7 linked regions of the Homo sapiens genome follow. The protein of the gene in region 4 purifies or fractionates together with the protein of the main gene of each other region. This does not show direct contact. Each region holds a gene or a part of one and is shown on either strand. Other genes may lie near its edges.

Region 1 (3,500 bases), on a different chromosome or scaffold from region 4:
ATAAATCATGGTTAAAATGTATTACTACAAAGGAATACAAATTAAATATGTGTATCAGTTGTGTGCAGTTTCAGCTGCCAGAAAAAGACAATGTTCACTGAAGAAATAAACAACAAATTACGTAAGAATTGACTCCAAATAATATAGGGAAACTGCTGTCTACAAATACACTCCTATTGAGACTACTCAAGTACTCTTAATTTTGGAAAACCTTCCTCTTGAAATAGATCATTTCTGTATTCACTTCTAAGTAGTTCTGCTTACTGTTTCATCCTGGATTTCAGTTATGTGTTGATTTTCAAACATCGTCACCCTAACCGTACACATCCAAAGGAGAGTGAAGGACAGAGTACATCTTTAATTTGGACAGTGTGAGATACACATTAGTTGTAGTCCAAAATGGAATTTGAGGAGGGTTAAAAACACTGGCCCTAGCCAGGTGCAGAGGCTCACGCCTGTAATCCTAGCACTTTGGGAGGCCGAGGTGGATGGATCACCTGAGGTCAGAGGTTCAAGATCAGCCTGGAAAACATGGCGAAACCTCATCTCTATTAAAAATAAAAAAATTAGCCATGTGTGGTGTTGCATGCCTGTAATCCCAGCTACCTGGGAGGCTGAGGCAGGAGAATCACTTGAACCTGGGAGGCGGAGGTTGCAGTGAGCTGAAACTGCACCAAAAAACAAACAAAAAACACTGGCCCAAATCCTAATAGAAGAGTTTACTACTTCCTCCATTCAAGTTAGCCATTTTGAGTGGTAAATTAACTTTCTAATCAACAGAGTATTCACTAGTTACAGATGTAGTACCTGAAAACTGGGCTTAAATATTTTAATCGCCAAATAGTATACCAGACATTTTGGTCCACATAACAGTGAGGGTGTGGGAGTGGAAATTGATACACCCCTCATGAGCAGAAGGCAAAAGTATGATAGCTCAAAGGTCCGTGCACTGTGTTACCTTTTGTCACTTCCAGATTAAAGATCTGAGGAGGTGACATGGAGTTCTCATGTCAGCCCTAGAGATCAGACTTTTGAAATTCCAAACAGATATAGAGATATTTACATAAAAGACAAAATGCTACTGTACTCCAAATCAGTGTTTGAGATTTATTATTGCATGCTTATAGCTAGAAAAAAAAATTTACTCTGAAAGCTTTCATATGAATTGATTTTGGACAAGTTGTTCCACATGACTCTTCAAGACATTCATATCAGCTGCACAGACCTGGTACTCCATCTTCTCTTGCTGTTTTGTTCTCTCTAATAAAGCCTCATGCAGTGGAGGTAATGCATTGTATGAACCCAGCAAATAGAGCTGACTTGATGAAGTCTCATTGATTTCTTTAATCTTTAAAGCCTGCATGATAGCAGGTGCAAACTTTGAGTAATGGGCTGTAGATGAGATAATCACAGGGCAAGTTTTGTCTTGCACCCTATCTGCAACCACTTTTGCAACAGCAGTGTGTGGATCCAAAATATACCCTGAAGTATTATAGGTGGAGTTAATAGCTGCTAGGCACTCTCCCTCAGAGCACCAGTCAGCTACAAAATCCTGCTGAAGTTTCTCAACTAGAGCCTTTTCTATCTGGAAATGATGCTGACTTTCTAATCGATTAAATAATTCTGTCATTAGCTGTCCATCTTTATTAGCCATCAAGTGTAAATGTCGTTCTAGGTTTGAAGATTTGAGAATATCTATTGACGGTGAAAAGGTTTGTGCTAGTTTTCTTTCCCTTAGATCATAATGTCCTGTTTTTATAAAATCAGTCAAAACATGGTTCTGATTAGAGGCACAGATAAATTTTCGAATCGGGATTCCCATCATTTTGGCATACACTGCTGCTAAAATGTTACCAAAGTTTCCTGTGGGAATACAGACATCGACTGGGCTTCCAAAAGAAATAAATCCTTGACTAACAAGATCAAGATATGCGGAAGCATGATAAACTACCTGCGGAAGTAGTCGGCCCCAGTTTATGGAGTTAGCCGAACTTAAGATTGTTCCATATTCCACAGTAAGAAAGCCAGTAAAATCAGAATCATTAAAAATTCTTTTTATAGCTGTCTGGCAAAAATCAAAATCTGACTCAACACCCACTGCCCATCCATTTTCTCTCTGACTGCCAATTATTTGTGCTTTTTGAAAATCACTTACTCCATTCTCAGGAAAAAATGCAACCACAGCTATCCTTTGCTTATCATTCTTATTTAGACGACTAAAACCATTTAAGACTGCACTCCCTGTGTCTCCTGAAGTAGCTACAAGTATCATATAATTGCAACTTGGTGGGATACAGTGTGCAAAAATATGAGGCATAAGCTGTAAAGACAAATCTTTAAATGATCCTGTTGGTCCATGAAACAACTCCAGGATGAACTGGTTGCCTGAAAGGTGCCTGACAGGAGCAATTTTTGAGCAGGCAAAGTTTTCCCCATAAGCAGTTTCAATCATTTCTCCCAACCTGGCAGCAGGTATGTCTGCAGGATGGATACATCTTTCCAACAGTATCTGTGCTCTTTCTACGTAGGTTGCTCCTACTAGGCTTTTCCACTCCCCGCAGCTTAATTTTGGAAACTCCTTTGCAGGAACAAAGAGGCCACCATCAGAAGCCAACCCCTCAATTACAGCTTCACTAAAGAATTTTGCTGAAACCTTCTGTTCACAGTCTTCAGGCCAAACGTGTCTTGTTGAAATGAATGTTTCCGAGTCCACATCTTGGTATCTTTTAATTGCATTCAGCACTTTGTCAGCTACCTCCTCTGGGGAAGCCCCACTTTCACAGAAAACACGAGCATCATACCACTTCTTATAATACTGTCTTCTAAATTTAAGTAAGTCTTTCATAGATGTTCCAGAATTCTGACCTACAATCCTATCTGTCTTCATTAATTTTAGACGACAAATTAGATCTAGTAGAGGTACATCCAGGTATACAATTATTCCATTTTTCTTCAGATGCCACATGCTAGCATCATGCATTGGATTGGACCCAGTAAGGGAAATCACACTTCCAGATGCAGAGAAGTTTAACACAGCTTTTCCTTCCTCTTCTAAAAATTGCTCATTACCAACATCCTGTAATTTTTCAGACACACTCATATTCCAGGTTTTTTCAAGGATATCATCATCCACATCTATGACACAACAACCTAGTTTCTGACCTATTATTCTGCCTACTGTTGTTTTCCCAGCACCAGGAGGTCCCATCAGGATAATATTTTTGTCTCCAACAAGAGAGTGGGTTGAATACCATGACTTCCTCAATTCCGCAAGTGCAAAGGTTCTTGAAAGAAATCGCTGTGCATGTTTATCCGTTTTAACATGTATACTAGAAAAACATTTCTGTGTTATCTTTTTCAGATGATGACATCGGTTAAAGTGGAGCATTCTCTTTTCACTTTTCTGCCCAAGCCAACCTAAAAATTGGCTTTAGCCCTTTTCAAAACACAAAACAAACAAAAAACAACAAAAGATAATTTGGTTACTAATTACAGTAGAT
Region 2 (4,300 bases), on a different chromosome or scaffold from region 4:
AGGCGGGAGAATCACTTGACGTTAGAGTTTGAGACCAGCCTGGCCAACATGGGGAAACCCCATCTCTACTGAAAATACAAAAATTAGCCGGGCGTGGTGGTGCATGCCTGTAATCTCAGCTACTAGAGAGGCTGAGGCAGGAGAATCGCTTGAACCCGGGAGGCAGAGGTTGCAATGAGCCCAGATCTCACCACTGCACTCCAGCCTGGGCAACAGAGCGAGACTCCGTATCAAAAAACAAAACAACAAAACAAAACAAAAAACAGTAAAGAGAATACTATTGAGTTAATTTTACAGTTTTTCACGCTGTGGGTGTTTTCTATTCTCGTCTTTTGCTTAGCTGTCCTGTCTCCCTCTTTTTCTCAGGCAATAGTTTAGGATTTTTGTAAGTTATATTGTCAGTACTTCTCATTTAAGTTCCAGACAGTGTGCTAAGCAAAGCACTTTACTCGGTAAAGTAAGAGCTCACTTAATCTTCAAAATAACGTAGCAAGGTAGATATCACGAACATAGCAAGGTAGATATCACCGAAGGGAAAACCGCTCCCCGAAGGTCCGAAGGTCCAAGGTCTCTCTGCCATCTAGCTGCCCTGCGTATTGCCTGCCAGTGGGTAGTTGGAGCTGGGTATCTCTCCAAAGCTGGGCTCTTGGCTGCCCTTTGTGAAGGCAATTTTAAGGGACAGCAGGATGTGGAAGCCTGCGGTTAAGGAGTGAGCTGAGTCACTGGGTAACCAGTGTTGAATAATGTTTCTCAATGTCTGAAATGACACTCACTTCCTTTCCAGATTGGTAGAGGAGAAAAAAGAGGCGCAGTGAAAGCGCTCTCAAGGTGCGGTGGGTCAGGGTGATAGGCGGCGCCCGGCCGCTCCCTGGGGGTCCTGAGGGCGAGACCCCGGCAGGCTCCCGACTCCGGGAGCCGGGCGGGAGTTCGGTTTTCGCCGGCGCTCCACGGCCAGGCCACTTCGGAGGCAATCTGTGGCGGGGCGGGCGGACGCGAGGGCCGCCTCACCCCCGCGCGTCTTCCGGGACACCGGGCCCTCGGGCGCGCGGGAGGCGGGCTTAGCACGGGCGCAGGCTGCCCTCGGCGCCCGAGACACCCAGGCACAGCTGGAAGCTTCCTCCCCGTTAGCACGCGGGCCGCAGCGGGGGCTTGACCCCAATGCGAAGAGTCGGGTTTTCTGATTGGCTGAGAGTAGAAACGCAGGCGAGCGCCGCCTGAGACCCGCTCTGCGATTGGGTTTTACACGAACAGCAGAGCACGAAATAAAGAGGCCTTCAGTCATTGGGCCATTATGTGAATCTCCTTTTGGCTTCTCTGCAGACTGAATAAGCGTCTCAGGATCTTCGTCATGACTCCTAAATCTGGGCCTGTCAGTTCGCCCCAGCGTTTCTCGTCTCTAGGCACGGCATGGGGCTTACAGAGTTTAACCAATCATATAACGTCGAGATCAGGTTGCCAGGCAGATTATGCTAATAAGACCCCGCCTTTTATGCTGCTCCCACTCTGCGGCGGGAAGAACCACCTGGAGGTGGCGGGGGGGGTTGATTTCTATCACCCCTAGGGAGAGAGGATCGGGGACCCGCTGATCTTCCAGCTCCCCTCACCCAACGTCGTGTAAGTACCTAAAGGATTAAGGGAACCAGATAAGCCAGGGTCCAGACTACCCCATAGACTGGGAGGGTGTTTCGTCTTTGCTTAGTCCCACCCAAAATGGCGCCCAGCTCTTTCCGCGTCTCAGAGCCCGGCCGGGGCCAACCGACCGCGGACCCGGGTGGGGGGGGAATTGATGGTGGTGGTGGGGGGGAGAAATCCCGGCGGCACCGCCCGATGGTACAGTCCAGCCGGGGCTGGGACGAGGCACCTCACTCGGGGTGGGGGGTCAAACCATCTGCACCTTCCAAGGGGAAGAGGGCAAGGCCCCCTCCAGCAGGCCCTCCTGGCGCCGCGTTCAGCGCCGGCCTCGGCGTCTCGTCGCCCCTGCCTTCGCCGCGCGCAGCCTCCCCCTGCGACCCCCGAGTGGCTCGCACGCTCCGCCGGCCGCGCGCACCTCTCCTCCCCTGCCCGCGTTGGTTGGGCCGGGACGGCGGTTGGGCGGCCTGCGCGCTCCGGCGGCGGCGGTTGCGCGGGCGCTCCGGGCGCGGCGGGCAGGTCTCCGCCGGCCGGGAGCCGAGCACCGGGGGCTGGGGGCCGGGCGCCGGGCTGGGGGTGGCAGTGCGGGCAGGGCTCCGGGGCTGGCCGGTTGCGGGCGCGTGGGGCGGAGGGTCCTGTTCGATGGGGCGCCCAGCTTTGTCTGCGGAGGCCGCGCCGCCCACTTGCCATCGATGGCTGGGCCCCCGGCCTGCCTTCCCAAGCTAGCGTCCGGGACCGGGGCGGGGGGCCGGCCCGCAGGGGTGTGGGGTGGCCCCTGCGGGTCTGTCCCGTGGCACCGCGTCGGGGCTGGCCGGGCGGAGGCGGAGGCCGAGGCCGGGGTCGCGGCCCTGCCCCAGTCCGCCTGCACCCAGGGTGCAGCGCAGAGGCAGGGCGAGGCCGGTCGGCGCTCGGGAGAGGGCTGATGGTGTGCACCTCTCCAGCCCCTCGCCAGCTTTTGTTAAGCAGGTTTAACCCTGCAGCTAGGTGTTGATACTCTACTAAGTAAAATGGAATATTCCCCGTCTGCCCTCCAGCCACGCGAACGCAGCGCTGTTGAATTTGTGTGCGCGCCTTTAGCCTTGCTTGGTGGATGAGTTGGATTTTAGTGCATTTTCAATCAATGTGCGTGTACACTTAAGCACAAGGAGAGGTGGCTTTGTGCTGTCATCGAGGATTAGATGTGTGATGAGACCCACCCAGCTCTGCCCTGTGCCCTAATTCTGCTGCTTTGCCTGTTGAAACCTTGCCTGTCTCGTCACCCCAAATTCTCTAAACTTAGCAGTACTTAACCTTTATTAAAAACAGCAGAATCACTCATGACTGTTTTGTGGCCTCTTTTTCTGACCTGTTCTCTTTGTTTCTATCACTCCTCCATCGCTGTAAGGCAAGAAGGTGTATTATTACATTGTATTTTTTTTGTATCTTCCTACCATTCCAGCATCACAATAGCTTCCACTTTGATGAGCAGTACTTATTTGTTGTTCTAGAATAGAGAAAACAAGATTTTTTTTTAAAATTAGGATTGGTTGGGGGCAAAGCAGCGTTTAAACAGTGTTTATTCAATATGGGGTATTTAGAAAGGAACTTTGCTAGGTTTATTTAGGAGACAGGGTCTCTGGTTGCCCAGGCTAGAGTGCAGTGGCGCGATCTTGGCTCACTGCCGACTCGACCTCCCGGGCTCAAGGGATCCTCCTGCTTCAGCCTCCCTAGTAGCTGGGACTACAGGCGTGCACCACCACGCCTGGCTAATTTTTCTACTTTTTGTAGAAACGGGGTTTCATCATTTTGCCCAGGATGGTTACGAACTGCTGAGCTCAAGCAATCCTACCGCCGCAGCATCCCTAAGTGCTGGGATTGCAGGCATGGGCCCCCGCGCTCGGCCTTTAGGTTTACTTTTACAATAAATTGAGGTGAAGTTGACACAGAATGAACCATTTTAAAGTGAACAGGGACGTTTAGTGAAAGGATTACATTTTTGTTTGTTTTGGATCAAGACAAATGTCTTGTGCCTTCTACCCCGTAAGCTCCCACTCTGCTATGCTGTTCCTCGTTTTGCAAGGCAAAATTGTTTTGCTTTTTCAAAGAATTCATTTTTAGTTTTTCTAATATTTTGTAGCATGCTCCACCACATATTAATCATATATTGTATGTCAATGTAATTGAGTATATATTTTAGAAAAAGCAAGGTTCCTGTCTTCAAGGGCTCTGAATGGTTTTTACTTAGAGGTTATGGAGGTATAAAGGATAGCACAACTCAATATAATCCCAAATTGATTGGCACTACCTAAGTTTCTGCTTGCCTGTTTTGTTTTTCCTTCTAGTTTTAAGAATAATGCGTGATCATTGGAGAAAACATAAAATTTAAGCCGGGCGCTGTGGCTCATGCCTGTAATCCCAGCACTTTGGGAGGCGAGGCGGGCAGATCACCTGAGGTCAGGAGTTCGAGACTAGCCTGGCCAACATGGTGAAAGCCTGTCTCTACTAAAAATACAAAAATTGGACGGACATGATGGCAGGCGCCTGTAATCCCAACTACTCGGGAGGCTGAGGCAGGAGAATCACTTGAACCCGGGAGGCAGAGTTTACAGTGAGCTGAGATCGGGCCATTGCACTCCAGCCTGGGCAACAAGAGCGAAACTCCGTCTCAAAAAAAAAAAAAAAAAATTTAGAA
Region 3 (3,388 bases), on a different chromosome or scaffold from region 4:
GAGACAAGGTCTCACTATGTTGCTCAGGCTGGTCTTGAACTTTTGGCCTTGAGTAATCCTCCCACCTTGGCCTCCTAAAGTGCTGAGATTACAGGCATGACCCACTGCCCCCAGTCCCCATTTTCTTTAAAAGGCCTGAACATTTCCTTCCTCGTGTCAGTCCTGAACAATTCACATTTTCAGGGCTCTGCTCACAGGCCTGTGACTTAGCCTGCCTGCCTATGAAACCATTAGCAAATTGGAAATACCTCTTGCACCAGTCAGAAGGGGGATTGGTTTCTCTTATATGCACATACATTGGGTCTACTGCACAAATTACAGGGCTCCAAGTGTCTTATGAGAGCAGGACTTGGGCTGACCATGTCTCTCTGCCCTCACCCATGCTCTGCTCTGATTTCAGATCCTAAGTGTGAACGTGAAGTCCCCAGCCCTGCTGCTGAGCCAGTTGCTGCCCTACATGGAGAACAGGTATGGCAGGGCGGGGGTGGGGACCAGTCGGAGTTGGGGACCTGAGGTGGGCACAGAAATACAGTCGGTAGCACAGCCAGTAGTGGGTAGAGGACAGAAGAGGTCTGGGATCTCCACATCCCTCATCTTCTTGTCCTGCCTCCCCATCTGTGTGGCTGCCATTCCCAATTCCAGTGGCTGCAGGATGAGAGTAGTATTCCAGGGGCCCAGGCATAGCCTCCTTGGCCTTGACATCAGCAGGTTTGGGACAAGGCTATGCTTTAACTCCTTGACCTTGTGGGCTGGTCATTGTCACCTTACCTGCTCTCTGTTCTTACCAACTTAAAACCAATGACAGGGTTAGCCCCATTCCTCTCCATAGGAAAAAGCCTGTCCCAGACCTCTCCTCATGCCTGCGCTTGGTCTCCAGGGACCCTGCCTGTGTTCCAGGTCCTGCAGATCTGACTGTACCCCTCACAGACACACCCTTAGGAACTGGCCAGGGGCTGTCTTCAGTAGAAGGAAAGTTCCTGACTGTCACTTCTGGTCTCCCTTACCCCATCTGCTCCTTAGAGGTTGCTCATTGATAGGCACTCACCATCAGCCTTGGGTGCCTCTTCACAAAGCCCACCCTGCCCTCTCCTTCAAGCACCTGGCAAGAGAGGAAGCAGAAGATAAGGGTTCTGAGCATGGACATCGTATTTATGAGAAATAGGCATGGAATCCTAGCTCTGCCGTGTATTGGCTGGTACTAAACCTTTCTGAGCCTCAGTTTTCTGAACTCTGAGATGGGGACAGTAATAGGACCTGTGTTGCTTCTGTGAGGGTTGCATCATTTAATGAACTCATGATAGTGTCACCATCAGTGGTAAGCTCTTAGCTTCAGCTTCTCTTATGTTTGTCTTGTCTCAGGAGGGGTGCTGTCATCCTGGTCTCTTCCATTGCAGCTTATAATCCAGTAGTGGTAAGTGCTTGGTCCTTGTGCTCCTGAGTGGTATAGGGTGAGGGGCAACTTTGTTCTTTTCCTCAGAGCCTTACAGACAAAGTGCCTGGGACAGACCCCCACCATCCTCCTGCTGCCCTGGGCTGAGCTTGTCTCCATGTGGGTGGGAGGGCTGCTGGGCCTGTGAGATCCCTGTAGGTGAGAAATCCAACTGATGCTTTCCCCCACTCTCCCATATCCTAATCACTCTGTCAATTCCCTTCCCAGGCGCTGGGTGTCTACAATGTCAGCAAGACAGCGCTGCTGGGTCTCACTAGAACACTGGCATTGGAGCTGGCCCCCAAGGACATCCGGGTAAACTGCGTGGTTCCAGGAATTATCAAAACTGACTTCAGCAAAGTGGTGAGGATTGGGTGTGTCTTCCATCTCCCAGTCTGGCTCAGTGGGAACCCTTCCCAGTGAATAAGGGATCAAGGGGTGACTGAATCCTTAGGTCAGCATGCCTATGACTGAGGTCCTCATTGTTCTCTGAACTCAGCCATGGTGCAGTCCATCCATCCTGAAAAGATGCTCCTTCTTTTGAGAAGGGCAAAGCTGCCCTAGGTGTTCTGCCTGGTGGCCTTCCCGGGGCCCTGCCCATCTTGTTTTAGTAGCACTGACTCCTTCATTTCTTCCCTTTGCCCAGTTTCATGGGAATGAGTCTCTCTGGAAGAACTTCAAGGAACATCATCAGCTGCAGAGGCAAGTGGGGTTTGGAGATTTGGTGGTCCATGTGTGGCTAGGCAGGGGCAGTTGAGTCTATTGCAAGAGCAGACCCCTCCCTGTCATCTGGCCATTGTTTTTGCTGAAATCTGGAGTCCACATGGCCCTGGAGGGTGCAAGTAGCCCTGCTGCATCCACCTTGTTCCCCATGGAGCCCACTCCCACCTGTCATCCGTGAGCCCCAGAGCAGCAGAATCAGAGTACAAGATGCTTGACACTGTGTCCTTCTTCCATCCAGGATTGGGGAGTCAGAGGACTGTGCAGGAATCGTGTCCTTCCTGTGCTCTCCAGATGCCAGCTACGTCAACGGGGAGAACATTGCGGTGGCAGGCTACTCCACTCGGCTCTGAGAGGAGTGGGGGCGGCTGCGTAGCTGTGGTCCCAGGCCCAGGAGCCTGAGGGGGTGTCTAGGTGATCATTTGGATCTGGAGGCAGAGTCTGCCATTCTGCCAGACTAGCAATTTGGGGGCTTACTCATGCTAGGCTTGAGGAAGAAGAAAAACGCTTCGGCATTCTCCTTAGGACTTATCTGCTTGTAGATTTGGCTGATCCAATTAACATGTGGGGTTCTTGGTGTGGGTCTGGGGAGCTGAAGGATTTTATGGAGCTGGTGCTTTGGAGGAATCTTAAGGGAAAGGAGTAGAAGCTCAGGCCTTTGAAGGATTTCAGCTCCTCCTCTCTGTAATTTGTGCTTTAAGCATTTTTTTTCCTAAAATAAACTCAAATTTATCCTCAAGTCTGGAAGCATCTGTCAAGGGTAGAGCCCAGGGCAGCATGGTGGGAAGAGGCCTCTACCGCCAGCTGCCCTGAGCTCGTCGCAGACACACAGAGGCGGGAGTGAGTGTGCTGCCTTGCAGAAGGCTTTGTGTGTGCTCCATTATCTGAACTGGGCCTGCTGGGGGCTCAGCAAGGTGGTGGTGGGTGACAGTGGAAAGATTCTGGGGTTCTCCCAGGGGTCCTCCAGGCTAATACTTCTTAATGTTTTCTGGGCCACACAGGCCTTTGAGAACCCAGAGAAAACAGTTATACCGAATCTTGTGCATAATTCCAGTTAGAGGAGAGTAGTCAGAGCTGAAGTTCCTCTTGGGGTGAACACATGGCTTTCTCAGAAAAGGCCCTGTGTATTGTCCTGAGTCATATTCGGGGGCACCGCCCTCTGTGTATGCATACTGAGGCTCAGCACAGTGGAGGGGGAACAGTGGTCCTCGAGCCATCCGTGGCCCTGAGCACCACTCT
Region 4 (3,500 bases):
TACTTGAATAACTGGGTCTAAAGCTAGAGTTTTAACTAAGTGATACTTGTAGATTCTTATTGTAACTTTTTAGGATGAAGATTTGGGAACGATTCATATGGAAAAAAAATTTTTTTAGTTGGTAAGTTTGAGAACCATGTTAATACAGTCTGGACACACACATCTGTTAATGCAGCTCGAAATTGTGCACAGTTTGTTTAGTAGCTTTTATTATCTAGGTATCCCCCCACAAACTGAAGTTTACTCTGTCATGTTTTTTTTTTTGAGATGGAGTCTCACTTTGTCACCCAGGCTAGAGTGCAGTGGCGCAATCCTGGCTGACTGCAACCTCTGGCTCCTGGGTTCAGGTGATTCTCCTGCCTCAGCCTCCGGAGTAGCTGGGACTACAGGCGCCCACCACCATGCCGGGCTAATTTGTATTTTTAGTAGGGATGGGGTTTCACAATGTTGGCCAGGCTGATCTTGAACTCCTGACCTCAGGTGATCCGCCTGCCTCGGCCTCCCAAAGTGTTGAGATTACAGGTGTGAGCCAATGTGCCTGGCCTATTTCGTTTTTTTTTTTTTTTGAGACGGAGTCTCACTCTGTCACCCAGGCTGGAGTGCAGTGGGGTGATCTCTGCTCACAGCAAGCTCCGCCTCCCGGGTTCGCGCCATTCTCCTGCCTCAGCCTCCCCAGTAGCTGGGACTACAGGCACCCGCCACCATGCCCGGCTAATTTTTTGTATTTTTAGTAGAGATGGGGTTTCATCGTGTTAGCCAGGATGGTCTCGATCTCCTGACCTCGTGATCTGCCAGCCTCGGCCTCCCAAAGTGCTGGGATTACAGGCGTGAGCCACCGCGCCCGGCCTATTTCAGTTTTAAAACTAAATACAGCCCTCGATTCCCTGTAGATATTCATTTTTGGTTTTGGACCATCATTTCAGCCTACTGTGAGCTTTCTGGAGCTGATTCGGTCAGGCTGTGCGTGTTGGGTCACTCACAGGTTTTTTTCACTTGCAAATATGAAGAGCAGTTCTATGGCTTCATTAAATTAATAGAAGTTGTCTAGATTGTGAAAAAGGATGGAACCCTGCGACATATTACTGGAGACTTTCTACCAACTTGGTTGATGTTGTTACGTTAGTCAACCAGATGTTCAACTAGCTATGCATCCTGTTAGTTGAATTTAACAGATTTTCGAGCTTCTGCTGTTCAACATTTTCCCATTTTGTTCACCAGCCTATTATTTAAAAGATTCTTTCAGATTGTCTTGTTAGATTGTTATGTGTATATATCATCCTGTCATCCTCCCTTTTTCCATTTTAGTAATCCTGTTAAATAAAAAGCACATGTTGTATAGCCTGCCTTAATAAAGAGCTGATGGTGGCTTTCTCATTTTACTGTATTCGAAAACTTATTTATCCATTTTAGAATTTTTCAGCAGTTACATAGCAGGTTTACCCACAGATGTTTTTCTGGATCTGCATTCCGCCTTTTTTTTTTTTTTTTTTTTTTTGAGATGGAGTCTTGCTCTGTCGCCCAGGCTGGAGTGCAGTGGCATGATCTCGGCTCACTGTAACCTCTGCCTTCCAGGTTCAACCAGTTCTCCTGCCTCAAGCCTCCCGAGTAGCTGGGACTACAGGCGCACACCACCACGCCCGGCTAATTGTTTGTATTTTAGTAGATATGGGGTTTCACTGTGTTGCCCATTCTGGTCTCGAACTCCTGAGCTCAGGCAATCCGCCTACCTCGGCCTTCCAAAGTGCTAGGATTACAGGCATGAGCCACTGCGCCCGGCCTGCATTTCTCCTTTTTTGAAATTTGAGCATGTGTTTATTTCTATTTATTTGATTTCTGGTCTTCTGGCACCTTGTCAAGGTAGCTTAGATAATTTGTGGTAGTTTTTAAGGCAGATGTAAAAGTTTTTTCAGCATCATGGAGTGTGAGTTATTTGGATCAGAAAGCATATTCTTTTGAACTAGCTCTGTATTCTGTTACTGTCCCCTACCCATGCCACTTACCTTAGAAGCTGGTTTCCTTTTATCAGATTTCTGACCTCCCTAGCTTGAAGATCATGCTTCTTGATGAAGATGAAGCATAGGGAATTGGCCCTGTTGTCTCTTGATATTGCATCTTCCCTAAGCAATGGGCCTTTGGTTTATCTCTTCTTGTTCTCAACAAGACTTTTTTGTTTGTTTGTTTGTTTGTTTGAGACAGGATCTCATTCCTGTCGCCCAGGCTGGCGTGTAGTGACGCAATCTCAGCTTACTGCAGCCTCAGCTTCTTGGGCTCAGGTGATTCTCAGCCTCCTCAGTAGTTCAGACTACAGGTGCGTGCCACCACACTCGGCTAATTTTTTGTGTTTTTAGTAGAGACAGGGCTTCGCCATGATGCCCAGGCTGGAACAAGACTTCTTTTGTTGTCCTCTTGCCCCAGTTCTCCACTTATTCTGGACTTTAGACTTATTGAGATTAAAAGAAAAACTTCGATTTTATATCTTTTTTATTTATGCTTATTTTTTTTTAAAGCTAACTTAACAGAAAGTTCCCAGTTATCCAAAGAGAAAAAAAGCTTGGAAATACATGACATATGTGAAGAAAGATAAACTTGAATTTAGGAGACCAGGTAACCTTAGACTGACTGACTTTGTTTTTCATTTGTGAAATGAAGATGATGATGGTCCTTTTTGGCTCTGGGATATTTGAGAAGAACAAATGAGACTAACCATGTGGGGCATTTCTAGCTTAGGGAATATGGTTAAAGAGGTAGAAGAACATACTGAGAGACCAGTAAGTGGCATTTCGTGATAGATATAAGGTAGAGAATTTGAAATGGGTTTTAACTAGAAGTGGGTCCTCTGGATTATTATATGGTGGTAGGAATGGTATTAATGGACGATATAAATGTCAGATTATGAGAAGTGCCTTATTTGTGGCAATTCAGGATTCTTGGGAATAAAAGTGAGTTTTTCTAATTAATGGGGAATCTCGGGCAGGGCTTTTATCTTCTAGATCCCTGTTGTGTAAAATGTGGATGGATAATAATTAATTTAGCAAACCTTGATTGAATACTGCGTAGTGTAATCTAATATACTGGATGTTAAGGGAAATATATGAGAAGGCTTCCCTGCTTTCAAGGGCCTTATAATCTTATAGAGGTGGTTAGCCTCTTACAGATATATATAGTGGAAGTTTCTGTTTACCACATCTGGGCTTGCTTCCCTACAGCAGTCCCCATCAATAAGCATTTATTGAGCACGAACAAGATAGGATTTTTTAAAAGGGGTACAGTTAAGTGGATTTATATATATTCACAAAATTGTACGACTGTCACCACTCTCTAATTCCAGAAAATTTTCATCACCCCCAAAAGAAACCTCATAGCTATTAACAGTCATTCCACATTCCTCGCCTCCCCAGTCCCTGGTTACTACTAATCTACTCTCTATGGATTTGCCTATTCTAGATATGCATGCAAATGGGATCATATGAGGTGTGTTCTTTTGTGTCTGGCTTCTTTCC
Region 5 (3,500 bases), on a different chromosome or scaffold from region 4:
ACCTGGTTCGTTCAACTTCAGCCTAAATATTTCCTAGGTATATTTTCTTTTCAAAGGAAAATATACCTACGAAAGGCTAGGCTAGGCCCCCTGTTCTAATACCCTTTCATACATCCCATTTGTCCCTTTGGTAATATTTACAATCTCTGAATTGAATAATTGTAGACAATCGCATGTTCAGTGCCTATCTTCCCAGGTAGACTGAGAGCTTCATAAAGGCAGAGAAAATGAATGGCTTCAGTGCCTGGCACAGATACAGACAAACAATAAATGTTCATCAACAGGCAGCCTAAACAGAATTTGGAGTTTCTAACAAAATCCTAGAGGAAACATAAGGATAACCACAGAGATCGCTGCCATGGGGTTTCTGTCAATTTCTCAAACTCTGCAAGGCCTTGCTTAAACCTAATTTTGCAACCAGTGGTTACAGCTACCCACTCACCACAAAATTGCATTACCACAAGCAAGGAAGCAAGCAATGAAGGAAGACACCAACTGAGCACCTATCATGCACCAGGCACCAAGCCATGTGCTTTACATTTCATTTACCACCTTGCAATTTCTGAATAAATGGGAAGCATAGGGTCCCTAAGCAGCTCCAGCTGATTCAAGCTCCTGCTCCAGGTACGTGTTGTTTTATAAGCGTTTCTTTCAAAGAAGCTTCTCTTCACTTAACTCTACCCAGTGTGTCTGCTAAAGAAAAGAAAGCAGGACTATCCTGCCAATTAAACTGAACTACATGTGTGTAGAGAAAAGATAATCTGGTCTAGATAGTAACTAAAGTCCTGTAAGCCAGGGTTTCTCAGCCTTCACACTACTGACATTTGGAGCTAAATGATCCTTTGTTATAGGGGCTGACCTGCACATTGTAGGATGTTCAGCAGCATTCCTAGTGCCTATCCATCAGGTTACAGTGGCACTACCCCAAATGACAGCCCAAAATGTCCCAGGCATTGCCAAATGTCCCCTGGGAGGCAAAACTGCCACTGCTTGAGAACCCATACATGGCCTTACCCACAAAATGTCACTGTACTGACTCTCCAGTAGTGTTTCCCACTATCCCAGCCTAACTATGGTCTAGGGACTCCAGCTGACTGAATTAAAAGATGGACTCGCTGGCCTCAGAGAACTTACATTCCAGAGTGAAAATAAAATCAGAAACCAAGGGAAACAAGTAATGTGACTATGATCTTGGCGAGGAGCTTCAGAGCCTTAAAGGAGCAGTCACCTTGCCCTTAAGGTGAAATACCAAGGACCAAGGAGAGAAAAAATCTGCAGGAACCCCTTTAACCCAATGGGCAGGACTCCTGGTTTCACCTCTCTCCAAACAACCAGCTTAGATAAAAAGCTACGCTAAGCTCGCAGCACTGGGTGGCTTGTCTGTATGCTCCTGTGTACTTTCAAGCAGGTGAGTTCTTTGTTTTTTTTGAGACGGAGTCTTGCTCTGTCGCCCAGGATGGAGTGCAGTGGTGTGATCTAGGCTCTCTGCAACCTCTGCCTGCCGGGTTCAAGTGATTCTCTCGCCTGAGCCTCCCAAGCAGCTGGGATTACAGGCACCTACCACCCCGCCTGGCTAATTTTTGTATTTTTAGTAGAGATGGGGTTTCACCATGTTGGCCAGGCTGGTCTTGATCTCCTGACCTCAGGTGATCTGCCTGCCTCGGCCTCGCAAAGTGCTAGGATTACAGGCGTGAGCCGCTGCGCCCAGCCGCAGGTGAGTTCTTTAAATGTGTGCTCCTTAAAGACTACAGAGACAAAGGTGCACAGGCAAGAACAAAGTACTATGCCCGTTAAATTCACACACTGACAGGACTACACGCCCACTCTACTGTGAGGCTGGACTCCTTGGCTGGAGCCTACCATGTCTGAAAAAGCATCTTATTAGCATCTGCCTTTAAAGCTCACTCAAATGTTGTTTCATCTAAATAAACAAGGGAATCTTTTAAATGACAAATTCTAATCAAATGAGAATGATTCCATTCAGTCATCTGCTGATGCCAAGTACAGAACAGGATGTGATATCTAAAAATTACAGTAAATAGCAATATTCTCCCTACTGGCAACACAACTGCAAAGATACTAATAATTGGCCAGGCAGTAAACAGCCAAATCAGGTGGCTGCCACGCGTTTTGAATGCATGTCTGACAGTATTCGCCAACCGAAGTTATTAAATATTAGGTCATACTGTCTTAAAAATTTCCTGGCTGGCTACGATGGCTCACACCTGTAATCCCAGCAATTTGGAGGCCCAGGTGGGCAGATCACTTGAAGTCAAGAGTTCAAGACCAGCCTGGCCAACATGGTGAAACCCCGTCTCTACTAAAAATACAAAAATTAGCCAGGCGTGGTGGCAGGAACCTATAATTCCAGCTACTTGGGAGGCTAAGGCAAAAGAATCACTTGAACCAGAGAGGCAGAGGTTGTAGTGAGCCCAGAGTGTGCCACTGCACTCCAGCCTGGGCGACAAAGCAAGACTGTCAAAAAAAAAAAAAAAATTTCTCATTAAGCCCATGAACTCCTCCTAATATTTATATATAACCTTGGTTGATGAATCACTCGTTCAAAGTAGGAATGCAATTTTCCTATAAAATTAGATTTGCTAATCAGACCAAATATGGTTAAAAGTTTTTCTGAAATTATTTTTGGAGTTTATCAACTAATCAAACATGTGATATACAACATATCCAAAATACAACATTCCCAAAATACAAAGGATTTAAGCACACTAGCAGAGTCAGAAAGTAATTTTAAAAACTGACTGATTTTAGATGATGTGGTATAATAAAAAATACATATTTGATCTTTGTCCCAGGTTCCTGATAGAGAGTTCCTAAAACCCTTCGGGAATCTCAGGGTAATAAGAGTATCTTTTGTATGCTAACAGGATGACTCCTGATAGGGGTGGGAGACCCAGACAGCTTCAGGATGGGGACCAGGATGTGGGTATAAGGTTCAAACTTTCAGCCCCACCTTCCAATCTCCAAGGATGAGAAAGGAGTTGAAGACTGAGTCTAATCATGCCTATGTAATGACACCCCTAAACTATGGGGTCCTGGGAGCTTTTAGTTTGCTGAATACATTGATATGATGGTTGGGTGGCTCATCAGAGGAAAGAGAAACTCTACACCACCTCCCACACCTCACCCTATGCACCTCTTCCACTTGGCCGTTCCCCAATTGTATCCTTTGTAATAAACCAGTAAACCTAAGTGGTTTATTATTATTATTATTATTATTTTGAGACGGAGTCTCGCTCTGTCGCTCAGGCTGGAGTGCAGTGGCGCAATCTCAGCTCACTGCAACCTCCGCCTCCACGGTTCAAGCGATTCTCCTGCCTCAGCCTCCCCAGTAGCTGGGATTACAGGCACGTGCCACCACGCCCAGCTAATTTTTTTGTATTTTTAGTAGAGACCAGGTTTCACCCTGTTAGCCGGGATGGTCTTGATCTCCTGACCTCGTGATCCACCCACCTCAGCCTCCCATAGTGCCGGGATTACAG
Region 6 (3,500 bases), on a different chromosome or scaffold from region 4:
TCAAGCAATTCTCCTGCCTCAGCTACCCAAGTAGCTGGGATTGCAGGTGCCTGACACCATGCCCGGCTAGTTTTTATATATTTTTATAGTAGAGATGGGGTTTTGCCATGTTGGCCAGTTTGGTCTCAAATTCCGGACCTCAGGTGATCCACCTGCCTCAGCCTCCCAAAGTGCTGGGATTACAGGTGTGAGCTGCCATGCCCAGCCCTTAATTGCTTATTCTTTATCTTAGTTTTCAATATTTAGAAAGCTATCCCATTTTACATGAGGAAACTGAGGTTTTGGGTCAGCAACCATGAGGTAGACCTAGGATTTGAACTAAGGACCCTGACTGTAGATTCCCTGCTCTTAACCATAACATATATAAATTTCTTGTGTTTTACTCATTTGCATAGCCCTCAGATAGTGAGTGCACAATAACTTGTAATAGATTTGTATTTTGGCCTTTGGAAGTCAAGGTCTCATCTTCTAACCTGGTATTTTTTTTCTCCCTCTAGGTTACGGGTAAATTCCGGGGAGGTGTGAACCCCTTCACCAATGGCTGCTGTAACAATGTCAGCCGTGTTCTCTGCAGTTCTCCAGCACCCAGGTACACCTATCCCTCTGGTCTAGTGTTTACCATTGGTCAGAACTTTTATCTTCTTTGGGCTTGTTCTGGTAAAGGAGGGGTCTGGTGAGAGCCTTTAGGAAGGGTTCTCTATCTTAGAATGTTAAGTACCCACTCTATCTTAGAATGGTAAGTAGTCTATCTTAGAATGGTAAGTACCTACATGCCCATCCTTTAGTGCAGTGGTCCCTAACCTTTTTGGCAGCAGGGACCGGTTTCATGGGAGACACTTTTTCCACAGATGGGGGCTGGGGTGGGGTGGTTTCAGGATGAAACTGTTCCACCTCAGATCATGAGGCATTAGATTCTCATGGCTGGGTGTGGCGGCTCACACCCAGCACTTTGGGAGGCCGAGGTGGGCGAATCACTTGAGGTCAGAAGTTCAAGTCCAGCCTGGCCAATATGGTGAAACCCCTTCTCTACTCAAAATACAAAAATTAGCTGGGCAAGGTGGCAGGCACCTGTAATCCCAGCTACTTGGGAGGCTGAGGCAGGATAATTGCCTGAACCCAGGAGGCAGAGGTTGCAGTGAGCTCAGAGCACACATACAACCTAGATTGCTTGCATGTGTAGTTTACAACAGGGTTCTAGGGTTTGCGCTCCTAAGAGAATCTAATGCCTCCGCTGATCTGACAGGAGATGGAGCTCAGGTGATAATGCTCACTGGCCCACTGCTTACCTCCTGCTATGTGGCCCAGTTCCTAACAGGCCATGAACCGGTACTGGTCTGCGGCCCAGGGGTTGGGGACCCCTGCTTTAGTGGACACTGTGAATTCCATTGATATTCTTCAGGTATTAAGGTAAATCTTTGAGAATTGAGGGTGAATAAGATACACTCTAAAGTGCTTTCCTTGAGCTAGGTATCTGCTCACAAAGGCCTAGTCCTGCTGCAGTCCTTCACAGAATCAATTCTGTTTATTGCTAAGTAAGTGATGGCCAAAACTGCAATTACTTTTTTACCAACCTAATAAAAATGGTTTACAGAAACAGTAGATACTTTAAAATATAAATGAATGAAAGCTCTCTCGCTGTGTCTCTCTCTCTCTCTCTCTCGACACTTAGGTATTTGGGGAGACCAAAGAAAGAGAAGACAATTGTAATCAGACCTCCCTTCCTTCGACCAGAAGTTTCAGATGGGCAGATAACTGTGAAGATCATGGATAATGGCATCCAGGGAGAGCTGAGGAGAACAAAGGTGAGGAATTTAGAGAAGTCAAGCTAGATAACATGGAAGTCTCACCCAAGGCAAAGAGACGGAAGCTTGCTTTAGTTTCCTTTGTGTTTTTTTTTTTTTTTTTGAGACAGAGTCTTGCTCTGTTGCCCAGGCTGGAGTGCAGTGGTGCTCAGTGCAAACTCTGCCTCCCAGGTTCAAGCAATTCTCCTGCCTCAGCCTCCCGAGTAGCTGGGATTACAGGTGTCCGTCACCTTGCCTGGCTAATTTTTGTATTTTTAGTAGAGATGGGGTTTTGCCATGTTGGCCAGGCTGGTCTCGAACTTCTGACCTCAGGTGATCTGCCCACCTCGGCCTCCCAAAGTGCTAGGATTACAAGCATGAGCCACCACGCCTGGCCCATATTTCTTACAGTGTTTATCACTTACTAATTTGGGTTAAAATTACTTAAATACAAATCTTGTTTTCTACATTAGATTTTTTTTTTTGAGAGGGAGTCTTGCTCTGTTACCTAGGCTGGACTCCAGTGGTATGATCTCAGCTCACTGCAACCTCTGCCTCCCAGGTTCAAGCGATTCTCGTGCCTCAGCCACCTGGGTAGCTGGGACTACAGGCATGCGCCACCACGCCTGGCTAATTTTTTTATTTTCAGTAGAGGCAGGGTTTTCCTATGTTGGCTAGGCTGGTCTCAAACTCCTGACCTGAAGTGATCCAACCCCCTCAGCCTCCCAAAATGCTAGGATTATAGGTGTGAGCCACTGCACCCGGCCCTACATTAGACTTTAAGTTCATTAACAATAGAAAATGAATTCATTCATTTCCATGTCTTCATAGGACTTAACAGCTTACAGCTAGATGGTAGGAGCTAAACAAGTAGTTGTTGGTTTAAATGGGCAAATAAGTGACAGAATTAAAACCTTTTTTAAACCCTTTCTTCTGCCAGGTACAGTAACTCATGCCTATAATCCCAGCACTTAGCGAGGCTGAGGTGGGAAGATCGCTTGAGTTCAGGAGCTCAAGACCAGCCTGGACAACATAGCGAGACTCCATCTCTAAAACAGACTAAAATAAAAAATAGAAAAATTTTCTGGCTGGGCGTAGTGGCTTATGCCTGTAATCCCAACACTTTGGGAGGCTGAGGTGGGTGGATCACCTGAGGTTGGGAGCTCGAGACCAGCCTGACCAACATGGAGACACCCTGTCTCTATTAAAAATACAAAATTAGCTGGGCATGGTGGCGCATGCCTGTAGTCCTAGCTACTTGGGAGGCTGAGGTAGGAGAATTGCTTGAACCCGGGAGGCGGAGGTTGCAGTGAGCCGAGATCATGCCATTGCACTCCGCCTGGGCAACAAGACCGAAACTCCATCTCAAAAAAAAATTAGCCAGGTGTGGTGGCACATGCCTGTAATCCTAGCTGCTTGGGAGGCTGAGGCATGAGAATCGCTTGAACCTGCGAGCCAGAGGTTGCAATGAGCCGTGATCACGCCACTGCACTCCAGCCTGGGTGACTGAGCAAGACTCCATTTCAAAAAAAAAAACCCAACTTTTCTTCATCTAATGCTATACCCAAACTGATTCTTGTGCCTTGTCTTCCAGTATAGTTGAGAAATATATGATAGGCAGTGGCTCATGTCTATAATCCCAACATTTAGGGTGGCCAAGGTGGGGTGATATTGCTTGAGGCCAGGGGTTCAAGACCAGCTTGGGCAACATGGCGAGAC
Region 7 (3,500 bases), on a different chromosome or scaffold from region 4:
AGTACCAGCTCCTCACCTCACAGCCCCTTCCAATCAGGAGCCTTCAGTCTCCCTTCCAATCTCACCATCCCCAACCTTTACTCCAAGGGTCATCTCCCATGTGATCTCTAACAGCACGGATATTTTCCCTGTTTCTGTGCTTTATTTAGATGGAGTAATCATATAGTACGTACTGTTCTGCATCTGGCTGATTTTACCCTACTTGTTTTCCAGTTTCTTTAATGTCCCTGTCTGTTTGTAAGATGTAACTGTAGTATGTGTGTGCGTTCCCATCGCCATTATGGTACCTGTTGTATGAGTGTATCCTAGTTAACATATCCATCCTACTGTTGGTGAGAGTTTGGGTAGTTTCTAGTTTTGGGCTCTTAGCACTGCCGAACATTTTTCTTCATGGGTTTGTTGAATACAAGTGCATTCCTGTCATGGGATTACTCAGGAGTGGCACACATAGTGTTCACCTCTCATCGGTGCTGCCAAATAGTTTGCCAAAATGGTGGTACCCGTTTGCACCGCCATTGTGTGAGGGTTTTTTTTTTTTTTTTTTTTGAGGCGGAGTTTTGCTCTTGTTGCCTAGGCTAGAGTGCAATGGCATGATCTTGGCTCACTGCAATGTCTGCCTCCCGAGTTCAAGGGATTCTCCTGTCTCAGCCAAGTAGCTGCGATTACAGGCATGCATTACCGTGCTTGACTAATTTTTGTATTTTTAGTAGAGATGGAGTTTCACCACGTTAGCCAGGCTGACCTCAGATTCCTGACCTCAGGTGATCCACCTGCCTTGGCCTCGCAAAGTGCTGGGATTATAGGCATGAACCCTTGCACCCAGCCTATTTTTTTTTGTATTTTTAGTAGAGATGGGGTTTCATCATGTTGGCTAGGCTGGTCTTGAACTCCTGACCTCAGGTGATCTGCCCGCCTCAGCCTCCCACAGTGCTGGGATTACACATGTGAGCACTGTGCCCGGCCTGTGTGAGGGTTTTGATTGTTCCACCTGCTCCTCTGCTCCTCACCAACGCTCAGTAATTCCCAACTTGTAGACAGGCTACTTACTAAAGGTTTACAGTTGTAATTCACAGGGAAAGCTGAGTAAGAGACAACACAAGGGCCAAGACAAGCCAAGCACCACTTGAAAGAACGCTTCTGATTGGCTATGGGGTGGGTGGAAAGTTAACCAAAGACTTTCCCCGTGGTTCTTGGCCCATGGTATAAACTGAGTAGCTCACGAGCTCAGGAGTCGGCCAGTCTTTATTTGCGTGGCTCTTTTGGGCCTTATGGTTTCTTCTTGTCCCAGGAAACATCATCTTATTGTCTCTTGGAAACTGAAACATCTTGTTTTGATTTTCAGAGGCGGATCTTAGATGGAAGTCTTGGCTTTGCTGCAGGGGTAAGTAGCATGTAGTAGGAGAAATGGAAATTGAGGCATACTGATTCTGACATGTGTCTGCCAAGGGCTGTCTTCAGTCCCTCCCCTTGCGACCTAGATGCATCTCTGTGTTCCTCAGGCACTAACACCTCCCTCTTATCACCTGCCATATTTATTTCCCAGCTTATCAAATGCCCATTTCTCTTTAGACAGCAATCGAGGTTTATTTGACAGCTGCCTCAGGACTAGGGAAATAAGATCTTATTTGGTAAGGGCCTAGCACAGGCCTAGCCTAATACATAGTTGGCTCTAACTAAATATACTTTTTCCTCCCCTTCTCCCTTAAAAGATCTTTTTTATAGGCCTTTTTTTTTTTTTTTTTTTTTTTTTTGAGACAGAGCCTTACCCTGTCACCCAGGCTAGAGTACAGTGGCACAGTCATGGTTCACTGCAGCTTCAACTTCTCTGGACTCAGGTGATCCTCCCAACTCAGCCTCCCAAGTAGCTGGGACTACAGGCATGTGCCAACGTGCCTGGCTGATTTTTGAGTTTTTGCAGAGATGGGGTTTCACCATGTTGCCCAGGCTGGTCTTGAACTCCTGGGCTCAAGTGATCCACCTGCCTAGGCCTCCAAAAGTGCTGGGATTACAGGCGTGAGTTATGGAACCCAGCATATTATAGACATTGTTAAACATGTAAAAATTGTGGATAGAAGCCTGTAATGCATCCCAGACACCCATCTCCCAACTTCAATCATTATTGACATTTTGCTAATCTCAGTTCACCTGTCCTCCCCAAAACTTCTTGGGAGGTTAGAATATTTTATAAAAGCTAATCCCAGATGACATGTAATTCCACCTGTAAATTCAACACACATGTCTAACTGAATGACTTTTTAAAAATAAACATAATCACATGGCCATTATACCTACCAAATTAATAATTCCTTTTTATGATCTAACATCCAGTCCATATTCAGATTTTCTTCATCTTTCTAAAGGTGTCATCTAATATTGTTTTGTTATAATTGGGGTCCAAACAAGGTTTCTATATTGCATTTGCTTGTTATATCTTTTAAGTCTCTTTAATTTTTTAACAGTTCATTTTTTTTTTCATGCTAGTAATTTGTTGGAGAAACTGGGTCATTTGTCTCTAGAATGTTGGCTGATTACTTCCTCGTGGTGCTGCCTAACTTGTTCCTCAGTCCCCTGTATTTCCTGTAAGCTGAGAGTTAGACCTGGAGTCTTGATTAGTTCAGATTCCATTTTTCAGGCATGAAGATGTCATGGTGCTGTGTATTGCAGATGTATTACCCATATCAAAAGGCGTGTAATATGTGGGTTTCCCTTTTAGTTGATCAGGGTTTGGTTTCTTTCTTCAGTTTTTATAGCCCTGCGATCTGGAAAAACTAGCCTGGAGGTGGAGCCTGCCAGAGGCCATCTGAGTCAGTAGCTGTTAGACTGGAGCCACTGTTCCGTCAAAAACACTGTCCTTTCTGAGCCATACACAGGTGCACAGAGAGTGTTGAGAAAATTAGTTTCTAGGTCCTCAGCTTCCATACGTTCTCTTCCCTATAACTGCTGTGCCTGAGAATGCCGGGGAAGCCAGCCCTACTTTCTTTCCTTCCTTGGCACAGCTTCCCTTTCCCACCTTACACAAGAAAGATGCTCTTGCCTTATAACCTTGTCTCTGGGTGGCATGGTCTTCAGGCAGACATGGAGGGCCCCTTGGAATGTTGGTGCTGGCACGGAGAAAGTGAAGGGCCTTGTCTCTAATCACTGGGCATAAGTCCATTTTTTTTTTTTTTTTTTTTGAAATGGAGTCTCCCTCTGTTGTCCAGGCTGGAGTGCAGTGGCTGGATCTTGGCTCACTGCAACCTCCGCCTCCCGAGTTCAAACAATTCCCCTGCTGCAGGCTCCCGAGTAACTGGGATTACAGGTGTGCACCACCACGCCTGGCTAATTTTTTTTTTGTGGTTTTAGTAGAGATGGGGTTTTGCCGTGTTGGCCAGGCTGGTCTCGAACTCCTGACCTCAGGTGGTCTACCCAACTCGGCCTTCCAAAGTGCTGGGATTACAGGTGTGAGCCACCATGCCCGGCCCACAATTCCTTTAGCAGTTCTGATGTGATCCTGTCCTTTG

Evidence for each region.
Region 1: the proteins of TMEFF1 (region 4) and THNSL1 purify together in Homo sapiens (affinity purification with mass spectrometry, with the first as the bait; 3 studies listed by BioGRID). This does not show direct contact.
Region 2: the proteins of TMEFF1 (region 4) and PRDM10 purify together in Homo sapiens (affinity purification with mass spectrometry, with the first as the bait; 3 studies listed by BioGRID). This does not show direct contact.
Region 3: the proteins of TMEFF1 (region 4) and DHRS2 purify together in Homo sapiens (affinity purification with mass spectrometry, with the first as the bait; 3 studies listed by BioGRID). This does not show direct contact.
Region 5: the proteins of TMEFF1 (region 4) and METTL9 purify together in Homo sapiens (affinity purification with mass spectrometry, with the first as the bait; one large-scale study listed by BioGRID). This does not show direct contact.
Region 6: the proteins of TMEFF1 (region 4) and ZDHHC5 purify together in Homo sapiens (affinity purification with mass spectrometry, with the first as the bait; 3 studies listed by BioGRID). This does not show direct contact.
Region 7: the proteins of TMEFF1 (region 4) and SLC39A11 purify together in Homo sapiens (affinity purification with mass spectrometry, with the first as the bait; 2 studies listed by BioGRID). This does not show direct contact.

What each region holds. Positions count from the first base shown.
Region 1 is NC_000010.11:25,023,112-25,026,611, reverse strand, and holds part of THNSL1 (threonine synthase-like 1), read right to left. Parts: intron 3,437-3,500; 5' UTR 3,389-3,436; coding exon 1,157-3,388; 3' UTR 1-1,156.
Region 2 is NC_000011.10:130,000,036-130,004,335, reverse strand, and holds the start of PRDM10 (PR domain zinc finger protein 10), read left to right. Parts: upstream 1-1,500; 5' UTR 1,501-1,614; exon of another isoform or gene 1,615-1,712; intron 1,713-4,300.
Region 3 is NC_000014.9:23,642,752-23,646,139, forward strand, and holds the end of DHRS2 (dehydrogenase/reductase SDR family member 2, mitochondrial), read left to right. Parts: intron 1-400; coding exon 401-468; intron 469-1,359; coding exon 1,360-1,411; intron 1,412-1,657; coding exon 1,658-1,792; coding exon of another isoform or gene 1,793-1,803; intron 1,804-2,075; coding exon 2,076-2,131; intron 2,132-2,390; coding exon 2,391-2,502; coding exon of another isoform or gene 2,503-2,551; 3' UTR 2,552-2,888; downstream 2,889-3,388. UniProt on the Homo sapiens protein: NADPH-dependent oxidoreductase which catalyzes the reduction of dicarbonyl compounds. Displays reductase activity in vitro with 3,4-hexanedione, 2,3-heptanedione and 1-phenyl-1,2-propanedione as substrates.
Region 4 is NC_000009.12:100,476,149-100,479,648, forward strand, and holds part of TMEFF1 (tomoregulin-1 precursor), read left to right. Parts: intron 1-3,500.
Region 5 is NC_000016.10:21,606,077-21,609,576, reverse strand, and holds part of METTL9 (protein-L-histidine N-pros-methyltransferase isoform 1 precursor), read right to left. Parts: intron 1-3,500. UniProt on the Homo sapiens protein: Protein-histidine N-methyltransferase that specifically catalyzes 1-methylhistidine (pros-methylhistidine) methylation of target proteins.
Region 6 is NC_000011.10:57,692,114-57,695,613, forward strand, and holds part of ZDHHC5 (palmitoyltransferase ZDHHC5), read left to right. Parts: intron 1-497; coding exon 498-589; intron 590-1,669; coding exon 1,670-1,802; intron 1,803-3,500. UniProt on the Homo sapiens protein: Palmitoyltransferase that catalyzes the addition of palmitate onto various protein substrates such as CTNND2, CD36, GSDMD, NLRP3, NOD1, NOD2, STAT3 and S1PR1 thus plays a role in various biological processes including cell adhesion, inflammation, fatty acid uptake, bacterial sensing or cardiac functions.
Region 7 is NC_000017.11:73,082,689-73,086,188, reverse strand, and holds part of SLC39A11 (zinc transporter ZIP11), read left to right. Parts: intron 1-1,342; coding exon 1,343-1,381; intron 1,382-3,500. UniProt on the Homo sapiens protein: Zinc importer that regulates cytosolic zinc concentrations either via zinc influx from the extracellular compartment or efflux from intracellular organelles such as Golgi apparatus. May transport copper ions as well.